2 linked regions of the Homo sapiens genome follow. The protein of the gene in region 2 interacts with the protein of the main gene of each other region in a pairwise test. Each region holds a gene or a part of one and is shown on either strand. Other genes may lie near its edges.

Region 1 (7,022 bases), on a different chromosome or scaffold from region 2:
CAGGTGCCCTCTCTATGCCTTCTATCCAAACGGAGGTCCTCCCACTGTGCCCGCCGGCATGCTCCGGGGTGAAGGCCCTGGCTTGCCATACCTCCGGGATGAGCTGGAAGAGGGCGTTGGAGTAGAGGGTTCCAATCGCCAGAGCTATGAAGTAGAGCAGCAGCCTCTTGTAAAAGGTCTTCTTCATGAAGGGCACCACGCTGGCCCCCAGGAGGGAGCAGAGGGAGATGACGGTCACACAGAGGAGACCGTATCCCCACACTGCCGTGCGGAGGGAGGGCCAGCCCCACCCAGGGCAGGGAGAGAAGGCACATGCCCCATTGCACAGCAACCACCATTTAGCGGGAGGAAGGTGGAGCAGATAGGGAGGTCGCAAGGAAAAGTTTGGTGGATATTAACGGAACAAAAAAGAAAAATCAGAGAGAGACAAGTAGGGAGGGAGAGAGAAATAGAAAATTTGTTAGTGATTCACATCTGATGAAATTTCCTTCAATCAGTTCAGAAGAAAGAGGAATTCAAGGTGGCCTTGGAACCCTGTGACTTCTGCCCCTGTGGCCACTGGTGGCCCCAAATCGTTCCTGCCAGTGGTGTGACTGGCAGGGCAGGGTGCTGCCTCGTCACACACCCAAGGTCTGCCCAGACCTATCACAGAGGCTGTCCAGGACAGACTTTGGACTCGAGGGCTCTCTTTATAGGACATGCAAGCAGGTGGAAAGAGGCTGATCACTCTGCTGCTGCGTTTGCTTTTGCATGTCCAATTCACACGGCGCAGGCTCGGGTGACACCACGACCACTTGGTTTGCTTTGTGCAAGACACAACCAAGCCAGATGTGCAGGGCAGAAGGGATGGAGAACGATTAATTCATGCCCAATGCCCATAAAATTCAGTGTCTTAACCTCTCAACTTCTTTGCTCATTTCCATGTGCTCTGAGAGGGGCTCAAGCACAAAGAACAGAGTTCCAGGAACACCCTGTCACAAAAATATTTCCTTGAACATTTCCCAGTTGTGACACTCTGTCCAGGCCCAAAAGAGGGCAAGACAGAACCAGACCAGGATGAGACACTCCCTGGCAGGCCACAGGGGTGGAGCACACACAATTACAGTATTTCCATTCCAGGAGGTCACAAGGCCTTTCATTTCAAATCTTTAAAAAATTAATATATTCCATTGCTGGAGCTGAAAAAATAGCCCAAGTTGAGGCCTCCCCTGCAAAGTGTTTGTCAGAGCCATGCAGAATTTTGAGATGGCACCAAGATGGTTCACATTCAACCAGGAAGAACAGGCAAGGCATGGCATCCCATCTGCTGTCTTTTCTGGGTGAGTCTTTTGACTGGGAAAGCCTGAGAAGCAGCTGACATGGGATCTTTGTGAAGGGCAGCATCCATGACTCCCTAATGGGGTCAACCACACGTCTGCGTATCCTCACCCTCCACAGCAGCATCCCTGCTTGAGCTAAAAAAGTGGGCAGACTGTCAACTTGGGCCTTATTTTTATAGCTCCTCTATGATAACAATTAAACAACAAAATTAACATTTCAAAACAGTCAAGTCAAGGTACCAGGAAGTCAGTCCTATCAGAAAAAAGTCAAGATGCAAGGTACAAAGGGCTGAGTGCCCCTTCCATTTATCTTGTCATTTTAATTTTGTTTGGTCTTAGTCTTTGTTCTGTGTTTGGCTCTCTATGCTAGAAACGATGGCCTGCTCAAAATTAAAGAACACTCGCTTTTTAGGCCAATTCTACATATCACTTGGTAACCTCTTTTCCTTCCATCTCATTCCAGATGGATAAGCTCTTGGTGCCCAGACCTGAGTACTGCCAGGATTTCTCCTTAGAATAGAGCAAGTACTTAGCACCAAAGGCATGGACGGCAGTCGATAGCTGCTGCTTTCCCTTGATGCCTTATGTATGGGGCTTAACAAGGGAGGGGAGACTGTCAAGTCCCCAGGAGGAGGGAAATTGGAAGAACCTTGCATCTGACAGCACCTGCAGAGGCCAGAGGAGTGAGAGGTGGGCCCTGAGATCCAGAGTTAGAAGTCGTTTGTGGCTTTGATACGAGGGACAGGTTCATTTCTCAGGTGGCAGTCATTGGGTGCCTTGGAGCCCAGGGTAGGGGAGGAGGGGATTGGCTCAGCTGTGCCGCCCCAGGGAAAGAGGACGCGCAAGTTTCTGTTCTACTGCACCTCTGGGATGAGCTGGAATAGCGCGTTAGACAGCAGCGTTCCAATGGACAGGGCGATGAAGTAAGTGAGCACACGGCTGAAAAACGCTTTCTCTGTGCAGGGCAGGACGAGGACTCCCAGGAGAGAGGCCAGGTTAATCAGTGAGACACTGAGAAAACCAAAGCCCCACACTGTGGAGGAACAAGAACAGACGAGGGCCTCTATTACTGAGGGTGGGGACACTCCTGCTGCCTGGGGCGGCCCTGTTCTGAATTCAGGTGTGATGGGGCAGACTGAGATCCACCAACCCATCAGTAAACATTTGCTGAGTCCATCTCTCACCAGATGCTGCGGAGAAGCCTAGGGAAACTATCAAAATTGCTATCCAAGAGAAACACCTTTTCCATGGAGAGACGGATGCAAACAGCAATGGAAGCCTAAAAACCATACAAGTAGGCCAGGTGCGGTGGCGCAAGCCTATAATCCCAGCACTTTGGGAGGCTGAGGAAGGTGGATCACCTGAGGTCAGGAGTTCGAGACCGGCCTGACTAACATGGTGAAACCCCATCTCTACTAAATACAAAAAATTAGCTGGGCGTGGTGGCGCGTGCCTGAAATCCCAGCTACTCAGGAGGCTGAGGCAGGAGAATCGCTTGAACCCAGGAGGCGGAGGTTGCAGTGAGCCGAGATTGCACCACCGCACTTCAGCCTGGGCAACAAGAGCGAAAGTCTGTCTCAAAACAAACAAACAAAAAAAACAAAAAAAGCCATACAAGTAAATAACGACAGCAGAAAACAGGGACTTGCAGTAACACAGACAGTATATTCCGGGTGCCGACACTCAGGCAGCACACGCCGGCCCTATGGGGCTTAGGGCTATCAGGGTGTACACTCACAGCTCGTGGCAAGCCCACTGTGGCTGGATCAGGGATACCGGGATAGGGAGGGGAAGAAGGATTCAGGGGCCAAGTGCAGCCTCCGGGAGGTCTTAAAGGAAAAACTATAAAACCAAAGTAGGCCAGGTATGGTGGCTCATGCCTGTGATCCCAGCACTTTGGGAGGCCGAGGCAGGAGGATCACTTGAGCCCAGGAGTTTGAGACCAGCCTGGGTAACATAGTGAGACCGTGTCTCTACAAAAAATTTAAAAATTAGCTGGGCATGGCGGTGCACGCCTGTAGTCCCAGCTACTCAGGAGGCTGAGGCAGGAGGGTCACTTCAGGCCAAAAGGTCAAGGCTGCAGTGAGCTATGATTGCACCACTGGACTCCAGCCTCGGAGACAGAGCGACATCCTATCTCAGAAAAAAAAAAAAAAAAGATTAAAAAAGCCAAAGGGTTGGGCCCCCGTGGTTCAACATGAAACAAAAAGCAGACCAAAAAGGGATCCATAGGCCGCTCAAGAAGTCCAACGCTCTGAACATTCGCCAGCTACGGCCCAGGAGTCTGACAATGTGCTAGGCCATCCTTGCAAAATACAAAAATTATCCATCCAATCATCGCTCCCGCTCCTGACACCGACAACCTCATCCTGGTCATCACTGGTGAGGCATTCAGTGAGGAGCAGCAGCAGCTCAGCCCAGGGGTCCTTGTGAGACGCGGGCGAGATGGGAGATGGGCTCCTGCCTTCCTGGCCTGGCTCACCTTCAACAGCGCTTGGCCGCCCCTCCTCCGTCTGCTCATTCTCCTCGTTTTCCTGGTTCTCCGAGGTGCAGGCCCGGGAATCCAGCTGCTGGAGGATGGTGGGGCAGAACTCCTGGAGCTCGCTGCTCCCAATCCGCGACTGCTCGCTGAAATTGTGGGCAGTGAAGAGGTCTCCAGAACTAAAGCACTGAAACACAGGAAGGGCAGGAAGCCGCTTAGACCCCAAAGGTCAGGCCTTGCCCTGCTAAACAGCAACCTACTCAGCCTTCCCAGAGGAAAAAGAGAAGACAGAAATGTCCAAATTTCAGGGAATTTGTAGATTCATCTAGTCTAGGGATGAGGGCAAGGTATTCCCTAAACTTAAAAAACTAGTAACTAATCCTTATGGCTCAGCCAGCCAGGAAAGTTACACATCATAAGCACAACCGTCGGTAAATGAGTGCCTGAGAAACTTTGGGAATGACAAGATTCCAATCATTGTCACCAAAGTGGCAGGGCACGGTGGCTAACACTGTAATCCCAGCACTTTGGAAGGCCAAGGCAGGCGGATCACTTGAGGACAGAAATTGGAGACCAGCCTGGGCAACATGAGACCCCTTCTTTACAAAAAGTTGAAAAATTAGTGAGGTGTGGCGGCACATACCTGTACTCTCAACTACTGAGGAGGCTGAGGCAGGGGGACTGCTAGAGCCCAGGAGTTGGAGGCTACAGTGAAGGAGCTATGATCACACCACTGCACTCCAGCCTGGGTGACAGAGCAACACCCTGTCTCTTAAAAAAAAAAAAAAAGCAAAATATTGTCACTAGGGTATAGTTTCTAGAAAACACCATTCTGGGGCCAGGTGCGGTGGCTCTCGCCTGTAATCCCAGCACTTTGGGAGACTCAGATGGGCAGATCACTTGAGGTCAGGAGTTCAAAACCAGCCTGGCCAACATGTTGAAGCCCCATCTCTACTAAAAATACAAAAATTAGCCGGGCGTGGTAGCTCACGCCTGTAATCCCAGCTACTCGGGAGGCTGAGGCAGGAGAATCACCTGAACCCAGGAGGTGGAGGTTGCAGCGAGCCGAGATCGCGCCACTGCACTCCAGCCTGGGCAACAGAACGAGACTCCATCCCCCACAAAACAAAAGAGAAAGAAAACACCATTCTGTGTGTGTGCCTGAAGATACAAGCTTCGTACCAAATCTGGCTGCACATCACAATAGCCCAGGGAGCTATTATGTTAAAATGCGGGTTCCAGCTACTTCTCTGAAGCTGAAATGTCTAAGGGCGGGGCTCTGCCAAAACTGTGGTGCTGCCCGATCAGCCCCACACATCCTCAACCATAGGACTGCCCTCAGCCTGAAAGACATATGTGTTCACAGAGGTTAGGGGAGGAAAACCTGAAGATTCAGGGAAGTGGGCCATGGCCGGCCAGCAGCCACCACACACAGTCACCTTGGGAGGCAGCAGGTAAGCGCTTCTCACGAACCGTTCCTGTGAAATCTGCAGCTCCACTTCTAATTATACTGTCTACACCTACATGCCAGGCCTTTTCTGAGTTCGGTCTCACATGGGCTTATCTCTGAGAGTCAGCCCTCTTGGTGTGCTCCCAAAATAAGTGCCTGCGCTTCTAAGGCTGGGGGCTGGACTCCCGCCACCCCGAGATGCTGCTGCTATCCTGGCGGGTCCTGAGGCTCACGCAGCTGCATTACCCCGCGGGGGCACGGGGGCGTGCTTGTCTCTGGCTCAGCATCTGATGTGCTCAGGTGTTCGCATCCAAGCCACGTGGTTCCCCCGTCCCTTTTTTTAATTTTTATTTTTTGAGATGGAGTCTCGCTCTGTCGCCAGGCTGGAATGCAGTGGCATAATCTCCGCTCACTGCGACCTCTGCCTCCTGGGCTCAAGCAATTCTCCTGCCTCAGCCTCCCAAGTAGCTGGGACTACAGGTATCTCCCGCCATACCCAGATAATTTTTGTATTTTTAGCAGAGACGGAGTTTCACCGTGTTAGCCAGGATGGTCTCGATCTCCTGACCTCGTGATCCACCTGCCTCAGCCTCCCAAAGTGCTGGGGTTACAGGCGTCAGCCACCGCGCCCGGCCCCGCTCCTCCCCCCCAACTTTTGAGGCCTCCACCTCCTGGGTTCAAGTGATTCTCTCACCTCAGCCTCCGGAGTAGCTGGGATTAGAGGCACCCACCACCACACCGAGCTAATTTTTGTATTTTTAGTAGAGATGGGGTTTCACTGTGTTGGCCAGGCTAGTCTCAAACTCCTGATCTCAAGTGATCTGCCTGCCTAGGCCTCCCAAAGTGCTGGGATTACAGGCGTGAGCCACAGTGCCCAGCACCCCCGTCCATTTTATCTCCACACTGCACTCATCTTTCAAGGGGCAGCTGGAGGACACCCCACGCTCGAGCCTTCCCTGATGACTGCAGCACACTCATCTCCCCCTCTCATTTCTGCATCCTACAATTACTGTCCAACCCACAAAATGCAATGCTTCATTTCAGTGCCTGCTGACTTTGTCCTCTGTTGGTTGAACTCCCCATCGTGACAGTCAACTCCCTAAATATGACTCATTTTTCTCTATTTCTCACAACACCAGCACAGGGAACAAAGTCGATATATAAAGATTTTGCTGGCTGACTTATATTTGGCTGCCACAAATAGCCCCAGAGTCTGATTAGCAGAGATGATATGGAAGAAAGAACACAGAATCCAAAGACCTGGCGTTCCAGCCCTGGTCTCTGCAGGGACTCACTGCGGGACCCTCGGTGTCCTCTCCTATAAAATGCAGATAATCTCACCTGCACCTTGAGGGACTGTGGGCTCACCCGGGATAGTGTGTAATGGACTCTGTCAATGGTAAACTCTATGAGAAATACCGTCCTGGGAGCCGTGTTTTCTCAGTATTTCTGAGTGACTCAAGTGCGGCGCTGAGGAAGATTCTGGGGGGCTGAGAACCCCACTTCCAGGCTGCCTTTTATTTTGTTTTGTTTTGAGACAGATTCTCGCTCTGTTGCCCAGGCTGGAGTGCAATGGCTCGATCTTGGCTCACTGCAACCTCCACCTCCTGGGTTCAAGCGATTCTCTTGCCTCAGCCTCCCAAGTGGCTGGGATCACAGGCATCCGCCACCATGCCTGGCTAATTCTTGTATTTCTAGTAGAGTTGGGGTTTCACCATGTTGGCCAGGCTGATCTCGAACCCCTGACCTCAGATAATCCACCCGCCTTGGC
Region 2 (7,624 bases):
AAGTTCACGGTTTTGCCTGACTTGACTGTCCCTACCGAAGACAAGTCTCTGGCTGTGCCCAGCTTGATATCCAGGGCAGGGAACTCTGTGCCTGTGTCCAGTTGGGATGTGTTTGGTGTGGCTAAATTGATAGCCAAGCTAGGTCTGTTGGTGGCCATTGTGGCTAAATGTCTGGCTGCGTCTGTCCTTGTGTCCATAGCAGTCAAATTCACAGTCGTGTTGGCCCTTTGGAGACGCCCCCGGGGTCTGGGGATCCCCCTGGCCCGGGGCTTGCCTTTTCCTGGAGAAGCTCTGGTAGGCATGTGGTCAGTCACTGAGACAAGGTGCCCCTGGCCCAACGAGCCTGGCTCTGCAAGGACTGGTGCACTCTGGGCTAACCGGGATTGGAAAGGTAAGGCTAGGTAGGAACTCACCAGGGGCTTCTCCGTGGCAAGCATCCTGTTGGATTTGGTCAGACCTGGGTTCCCTGGGCCCTCAGAGTGGACCCTGCCCCCTGGCACTAGGGTCACAGGTGGCGAGCCTGGCGAGGACACCCTCCCTCCTTCATGGGGAGCAGCCTTCTTTCCTGGGGTAGGCAACTCTTCCCAGTGAGAAAGTGGGCGATCCAGGGACCGTGCCTGGCTGTTCTGATGGAGAGTCAAGGAGATGGAGCTGAGCTTCCTGGGTACAAGGCTGCTGGTGGGCAGGGGGCTCAAGGAAGCCCCCAGAGCGATGCCCGTCTCCTGTGGGGGCACACTCCGGGTCCTGGCTCCAAGGCCCAGCCGGCTGGAGGTCTGTGGGATATGGCTTTGGGGGAAGGTATCCAGATGGATGGTCTTCCTGAGGACGGGGGTGAGGGGGGACCCTCCTCCAGGGAGTCTCGAGGGGCGGATAGGGCGCCCCAGCACATGGCTATGGGAGAAGGAGGTTCCCGGGCCTGGAGCTCCATGCGACTGCATCTCTGGAGGAGCAGGAGCAAAGTTGTGGTCCATCCAGGTCGTTTGTCTTTCCCTGAGGCAATCAACAGAGAGAAGAGGCCAGGCAGGGGTGAGGAGCTCAGGCCTGGAGGTCTCAGCTCTCCCCTTCCTGACCAGCAGCTGAGCATGCCGGGTCTGAAGGGGCCTGGTTCTGGGGACTGTCCAGTCCTTAGTGGAGGATGCATGTAACTTCCTCCTGTCCTCCTACGGCTCCTACCTGCTGCAGACTGATCTGTACCTCATACCTACCCCACCCCGGCCAGCCACCACACAGTGGGGTGGGCACGTCCAGTGAGCAGTCTGCCTCCAGCATGGGGCATCTCAGGCTGGGCTTACGTCTCCCTTTGCCTGGGCCTGAGTGTGGCCCCTGTCTCTGTGGACAGCTCTATGGAGGTCACATACATGTTCAGGGACTCCAGAGGAGGGCAGTGCTTACTGGAGACGTCTCTCCCTTTCTCTTCCAGAAAGAACCAAAGGGCTGTGGGTTCCCACCCACAGCAGCCAACATAGGAGCTCAGGTGTCCAGGTGGCAGGATGAGAGAGGACCAATTTGGCTTAGAGCCCCAGAACCAAGAAAGAGCCCTGAGCTGGCCTAGTGCTGGAGTCAGAAACAGAGCCAGCCCTGGAGAAGGTGAGGATGGGAAATGGAGAGGCAGTGAGTGTTCACAGAAGGAGCTTATCTGGTGAACAAGCCATGGTCCCCGCCCTTGAAGAGGCTGCCATGCCCAGGGATGCCAGGCAAGGAAGTAGGCAGGGCTCCACCAAGCTAAGCATTAGGGGTAGAAAGGCGGGAGGCTAGACCTGAGCTGGGGCTGTTCCTACAGAAGGCCCAAAGGTGAGAAAGTGTGGCATCTTTCTGAAAATCCAACATGGGGCTCCTAGGCTGTATGTAGCAGGGAGGGGAGAGCCAAGGCTGCAGGTGAGCTGGGGTCCAGGCCAGGCTACAGCAAAGTTTAGGCCAGGGAATGTGACCCATTCCGATCTGTAGGTGGGAACGGCCACTCGGGCAGTGTGACAGAGGGATCAGATGGGAACAGAATTGAAGCCAGGATCCCATGAGGACATAGTTGAAACTCTCTGCTCCGTGGGCTGTGCAAGGGGCAGAGCTAGGGCTGGGGCTGGAGGAGGCTGCATTGCACAGGGGTAGAAGTGGCGGGACTGCCCAGGGTAGGGAGTGGGCACAAAGAGGTGTCGAGGATGAAGCTCAGGACTCTGGCTGTGGTCTTAGTAGATGGGCCACTCCCTGCTACTCTGGACTCCAAGTAACTCACCCTCTAGAAAAAAGTTGGTTTGGTTGCTTTTAACACAGCAGGCTGGGACCTGCAGCTGGGGGACAAGGCCAGGGCTGGTGGGAGGAGTCAGTTCCAGAGGGCTCATGGGGAGGGGAGTGATCATGTAGCCAGGTCCTTGAGGTCTGCAGCAGGGACGGGGAAGGCAGGGCACCGGACAGGGAAGGCATCACCCCTCACAATGGTGCCCCCAGCCCCTCATCCCTCTCCAGCCATATATTTGTATCCAAGACTGTCCTGGCCTCCAACCCTTTCCCACCTGGCCTATCACTGCAGCCCTGAACTTCTGCCCCCTCCTGCACAGCCACATCCACTTGGGCACACACGTTTACCCTGCACTTAGCCACAAACAGCTCCCCTCAGTGTGCACACCCACACACAGAGCAGGCCAGAGGACAGGGTGTCCGAGGGCATCACCCGACTCCCCATCCCCTCACTGCACTCCCATCTTCCATGGATTGCTTGGTCCTTCCCCACCCCACCCCCACCACCCTCCCACCCCCACAAACCCCCACACCCTTCCACCCCCCTACACACCTACCTTGATCAGAGGACAAGAAGGATCCAGTGTGTCTGGGAAGATAAGGCACACGCAGGCCCCTCACCTCCCCTGCACTCAGAGTCTGGCCATGGTGGCCAGCTTAGGGGCCTTGTCCCTCTGGTCCCCTCCTCAGCTCCTGCTCAGCCTCCAGGCCACAGTCCCCAGGCACAGGGCCCAGCCCTCTGCTCACTGTCCCACCAGCTACATCCCCGGAGACCGTGCTGGGCTGGGCTCTGGTGCAGGGAGGGGCTGGCTTCCTAGGAGTGGGCGGCTGTGAATGGCTGCTCTGAGCCTCTGGAATCCTGAAGAGCCATGGGAGGCTGGTAACGGCCAGGCTGGCACTCACGGCCACCTGCAGGGAGGTTCCCTGCAGCCTGCCCTCCCCAAATCTGCTCTGTCTCCCACAGACTTTGATGCCTGGGGAGTCTGCAGTAAAAACAGGGGTACTCCAAATATGGCTGCACTCTGGTAGTCCCAGCGCGAGTCTCCCTCTGGCTCTGCCTCTGTGCCCTTCATGCCCTGTTCAGCTCTGCAACCCTCAGACCATCTTGCCCACTCACCTGGTCTTTCCTCAAGGGGGCTGGAGTTCCTGGAGGCTAGAGCTCCTTCCACAACTATTCCCTGAGCCCCAGCTTGCTCCAGCTGGACCCTGTACCCAGACCCTAAGGGTGTGAAGAGGACCCCGCCCTAGGCCTGCCCCTGAGGGGACCACAAAGCCACCCAGCCTGGCTCTGGCAATGCCGACTCTCAGCAGCCCCTGGCCCTGGGGCTGGGATGGGAGCCCTCTTCTGTGTTCCCACAGCCCTCGGCTGCCTCTGTCATAGCAGTGGTGATAATAACAATGGTGCTGATAACAGCTACTATTTCCTGAGCACTTGCTCTGTGCCCGGCACCATGCCAGGGCTGGGCGGAGCTCACAGTCTGCTAGGAAGATAGGTATGTAAACAGATCCTATAGTACTGTCCTGTACGGTGATGGCAGATGTCCTCCGAGCACTCACCCTGAGTCAGGAACTAGGCTAAGCATTCTCCTGGCATCTCCTTTAATCTCCGCCTCATCACCTGCTTTTTACCGAGGAGGACATTGCAGCCCACACAACACTGTGTTGTCTGGTCTGCTCTCCTGTGTGTCTCTCTCTTTAGCGAGTGAGCTTCTGGAGCTGCGCTGGGCAATACAACTTTCAGTGATAATGGAAATGTTCTATGTCTGTGCTGTCCAGTACAGTAGCCACTAGCCACAGATGGCTACCGATCACTTAAAATGTGTCTACAGTGACCAAGGAACTGGATTTTTTAGTTTATTTTAATCTGTGGCTACCATATTAGCTCAGCTCTGTTTCGTTTGTTGTTGCTGTTGTTGTTATTAGTTTTTTTGAACAGGGTTTCACTCTGTCGCCCAGGCTGGAAGACAGTGGCGCCATCATGGCTCACTGCAGCCTCTTGGGCACAAGTGATCCTCCCACTTCTGCCTCCAGAGTAGCTGGGACCACAGGCATGCACCACCACGCCCAGCTAAGTTTTTATTTTTTGTAGAGACGGGGGTCTCCCTATGTAGCTCAGGCTGGTCTCGAACTTCTGAGCTCAAGCAATACTCCTACCTCCACCTCCCAAAGTGCTGGGATTACGGTCGTGAGCCACCATGCCTGGGTGGAAAGCTCAGTTATGAAGGTCCTGGATCTTCTTCTCTGGGCCCCAGGGTCTGGCAAAAATTGGCTTCAGTAAGTTTCTTTTTCTTGAGAGTCTCACTCTGTCACCCAGGCTGGACTGCAGTGGCGGGATCTCAGCTCACTGCAACTCCGCCTCCCGGGTTCAAGCCTCAGGATTCTCCTGCCTCAGCCTCCCAAGTAGCTGGGATTACAGGTGTGTGCCACCACGCCTGGCTAATTTTTGTATTTTTAGTAGAGACGGGGTTTCACCATGTTGGCCAGGCTGGTCTCAAACTTCTGACCTCAAGTAATGCATCTGCCTCAGCCTCCCAAAGTGCTGAGATTACATGCATGAGCCACCGTGCCCAACCGGTAAATTTCTTTAGAAAGAAATAATGAATGAATGAATGATTGAATGGTGATTGTGTGGGCCTAGCACCCATCCCTCTTCTTTTTTTTTTTTTTTTTTTGAGACAGAGTCTCGCTCTGTCACCCAGGCTGGAGTGCAGTGACGCCATCTCGACTCACTGCAAGCTCCGCCTCTCGGGTTCACACCATCACACCATTCTCCTGCCTCAGCCTCCCGAGTAGCTGGGACTACAAGCACCCGCCACCACGCCCACCTAAATTTTTTGTATTTTTAGTAGAGATGGGGTTTCGCAGTGTTAGCCAGGATGGTCTTGATCTCCTGTCCTTGTGATCCGCCTGCCTCGGCCTCCCAAAGTGCTGGGATTACAGGCATGAGCCACCGTGCCCAGCCCCTATCCCTCTTCTTATCCTTTCTCTCCCCTTACAGCTTTAGGTTCTCAAACTTGGCTGGGCTCTGGTTACCAGGGCAACGTGCTGGGATCCCAGTGGATGGGGGAGGGCAGCTATCTGGCGCTTCCATGCTTTGAGGCCCTGAGAACTGGCCTGACTTAAGGAAGAACAGAGGGTGCTGGGAAGGAGAGGCACAGCTCTGCCTGGACGGATTGGAGCAAGGGAGACTTTCCTGGGCCCAGCCCCATTGGATTACATGATCTCTGTGAGATAAGCAGCCTTGGGCTGAAATCAGTGGCCCTGGGTTCTCTCCCCACTTTGGCCAACGATTCACCAGGCAACGTCTATCAGATTAACTTGTGCTTCTGGGACTCAGTTGCCTTTTAAAATAGGGATCAGATGCCCTCATGTGGTCGGTCTCTTCTACTTCAAGATCTACAATTCCTCCATCTCGCTCCCTGCCAGGCTGTTAGGGCCTTGAGAGCAAGGCCTGAGTCATGTTCATCTCCGCATCCTCCTGCCCATCTGCCCTGCTTAGAGGCTTAGAGGACACTTCCTGCCCAGTAATTACAGGCCAAGTTTCAGCTGCCCTCTAGGGGCCCAAAGTGACAATGGCCCTCTCCTATCTATACATATGGTGCTTTCCCATCAAAGGAAAGATCCATAGGCCTGGAAGTGGCCTCAGAGAACAGAGGCCTCCACTCAACCACAAAACCATTGTGGTGGCCTCCCAGACAAGTGTCATAGGCTCTGGAGTCCTTCAAGCCTGGGTTTGTTACAACTATGTGATTTTCAAACAAGTCAATCCCCCTGAGCTCCCCTCTCATCTGTAAAATGGAGATTATATCAGTCAGAATGAGTTAAATTATGCTGCAGTAACAACCATTCCCAAATCCCAGTGGCTGATAACAACATGCTGATTTTTTTTTTTTTTTTTTTTTTTGAGACAGGGTCTCACTCTGTTGCCCAAGCTGGAGCGCAGTGGCACTATCACAGCTCACTGTAGCCTCGACCTACCCAGGCTCAGGTGATCCTCCCACCTCAGCCTCCTGAGTAGCTGGGACTACAGGCATGTGCCACCACGCCCAGCTAATATTTCTTCTTTTTTTTTTTCTTGAGATGGAGTTTTGCTCTTATTGCCCAGGATGGAGTGCAATGGCATGATCTCAGCTCACTGCAAACTCTGCCTCCCAGTTTCAAGCAATTCTCCTGCCTTAGCGTCCTAAGTAGCTGGGATTACAGGTGTGTGCCACCACACCCAACTAATTTTGTATTTTTAGTAGAGGCAGGGTTTCACCATGTTGATTAGGCTGGTCTCAAACTTCTGACCTCAAGTGATCCACCCTTCTCAGCCTCCCAAAGTGCTGGGATTACAGGCGTGAGCTGCGTCCAGCCTAATTTTTCTAATTTTTGTAGAGACAGGGTTTTGCCATGTTGCCCAGGCTGGTCTAAAACCCCTGGCCTCAAGCGATCCTCCTACTTCAGCCTCCCAAAGTACTGGGATTATAGGCCTGAGCCACCACACCTGGCCGCAATGATACATTGATTTCTCATCCATGTCTCATGTCCACAGTAATTTGGGTCCACTAAGGCTCTGCTCTGTGCCCTCTTCCCTCTGGGACCCAGGCTGCCTTCTAGTGCATTGCTAGTCATGTGGCAGAGGGAAGGAGGGAGTGACAAATTGTGGACTAGCCATTAGTCCATCAGCCATTCGGCCTGTACTCACTTCTAATTACAACTAATTGGCCAGAACTAGTCTTATGGCCCCACCCATCACAAGGAGGCAGGGAAGTTTAATCCTACCGTGTGCTGATAGCTGGAGAGTCAGAAACCTTTGGTGAACAGCAGTGAGGACCCACTTGCATGGTTGCCATAAGAATGCAATGGGGGGCCGGGCGCGGTGGCTCAAGCCTATAATCCCAGCACTTTGGGAGGCCTAGGCGGACGGATCACGAGGTCAGGAGTTCAAGACAAGCCTGGCCAACATGGTGAAACCCTGTCTCTACTAAAAATACAAAAAACTTAGCTGGGTGTGGTGGCGCGTGCCTGTAATCCCAGCTACTTTGGGAGGCTGAGGCAGGAGAATCGTTCAAACCCGGGAGGCAAAGGTTGCAGTGAGCCGAGATCACACCATTGCACTCCAGCTGGGCAACAAGAGCGAAACTCTGTCTCACAAAAAAAAAAAAAAAAAAAAAGCAATGGGGGCCAGGCGCGGTGGCTCACACCTGTAATCCCAGGACTTTGGGAGGCTGAGGCAGGCAGATCACCTGAGGTCAGGAGTTCAAGACCAGCCTAGCCAACATGGCAAAACCCCATCTCAACTAAAAATACAAAAATTAGCTGGGCCTGGTGGCGGGCGCCTATGATCGCAGCTACTTGGGAGGCTGAGGCAGGAGAATCACTTGAACCCAAGGAGCAGAGGTTGCAATGAGCC

Evidence for each region. The genes of interacting proteins can lie anywhere in the genome.
Region 1: the proteins of SEPTIN3 (region 2) and SLC39A14 interact in binary tests that used the Homo sapiens proteins (3 or more experiments, as listed by UniProt).

The regions. Positions count from the first base shown.
Region 1 is NC_000008.11:22,405,276-22,412,297, reverse strand, and holds part of SLC39A14 (metal cation symporter ZIP14 isoform a precursor), read right to left. Parts: intron 3,989-7,022; coding exon 3,802-3,988; intron 2,353-3,801; coding exon of another isoform or gene 2,183-2,352; intron 262-2,182; coding exon 92-261; intron 1-91. UniProt on the Homo sapiens protein: Electroneutral transporter of the plasma membrane mediating the cellular uptake of the divalent metal cations zinc, manganese and iron that are important for tissue homeostasis, metabolism, development and immunity.
Region 2 is NC_000022.11:41,964,840-41,972,463, reverse strand, and holds the start of SEPTIN3 (neuronal-specific septin-3), read right to left. Parts: upstream 3,022-7,624; 5' UTR 2,787-3,021; intron 991-2,786; 5' UTR 972-990; coding exon 1-971. UniProt on the Homo sapiens protein: Filament-forming cytoskeletal GTPase. May play a role in cytokinesis.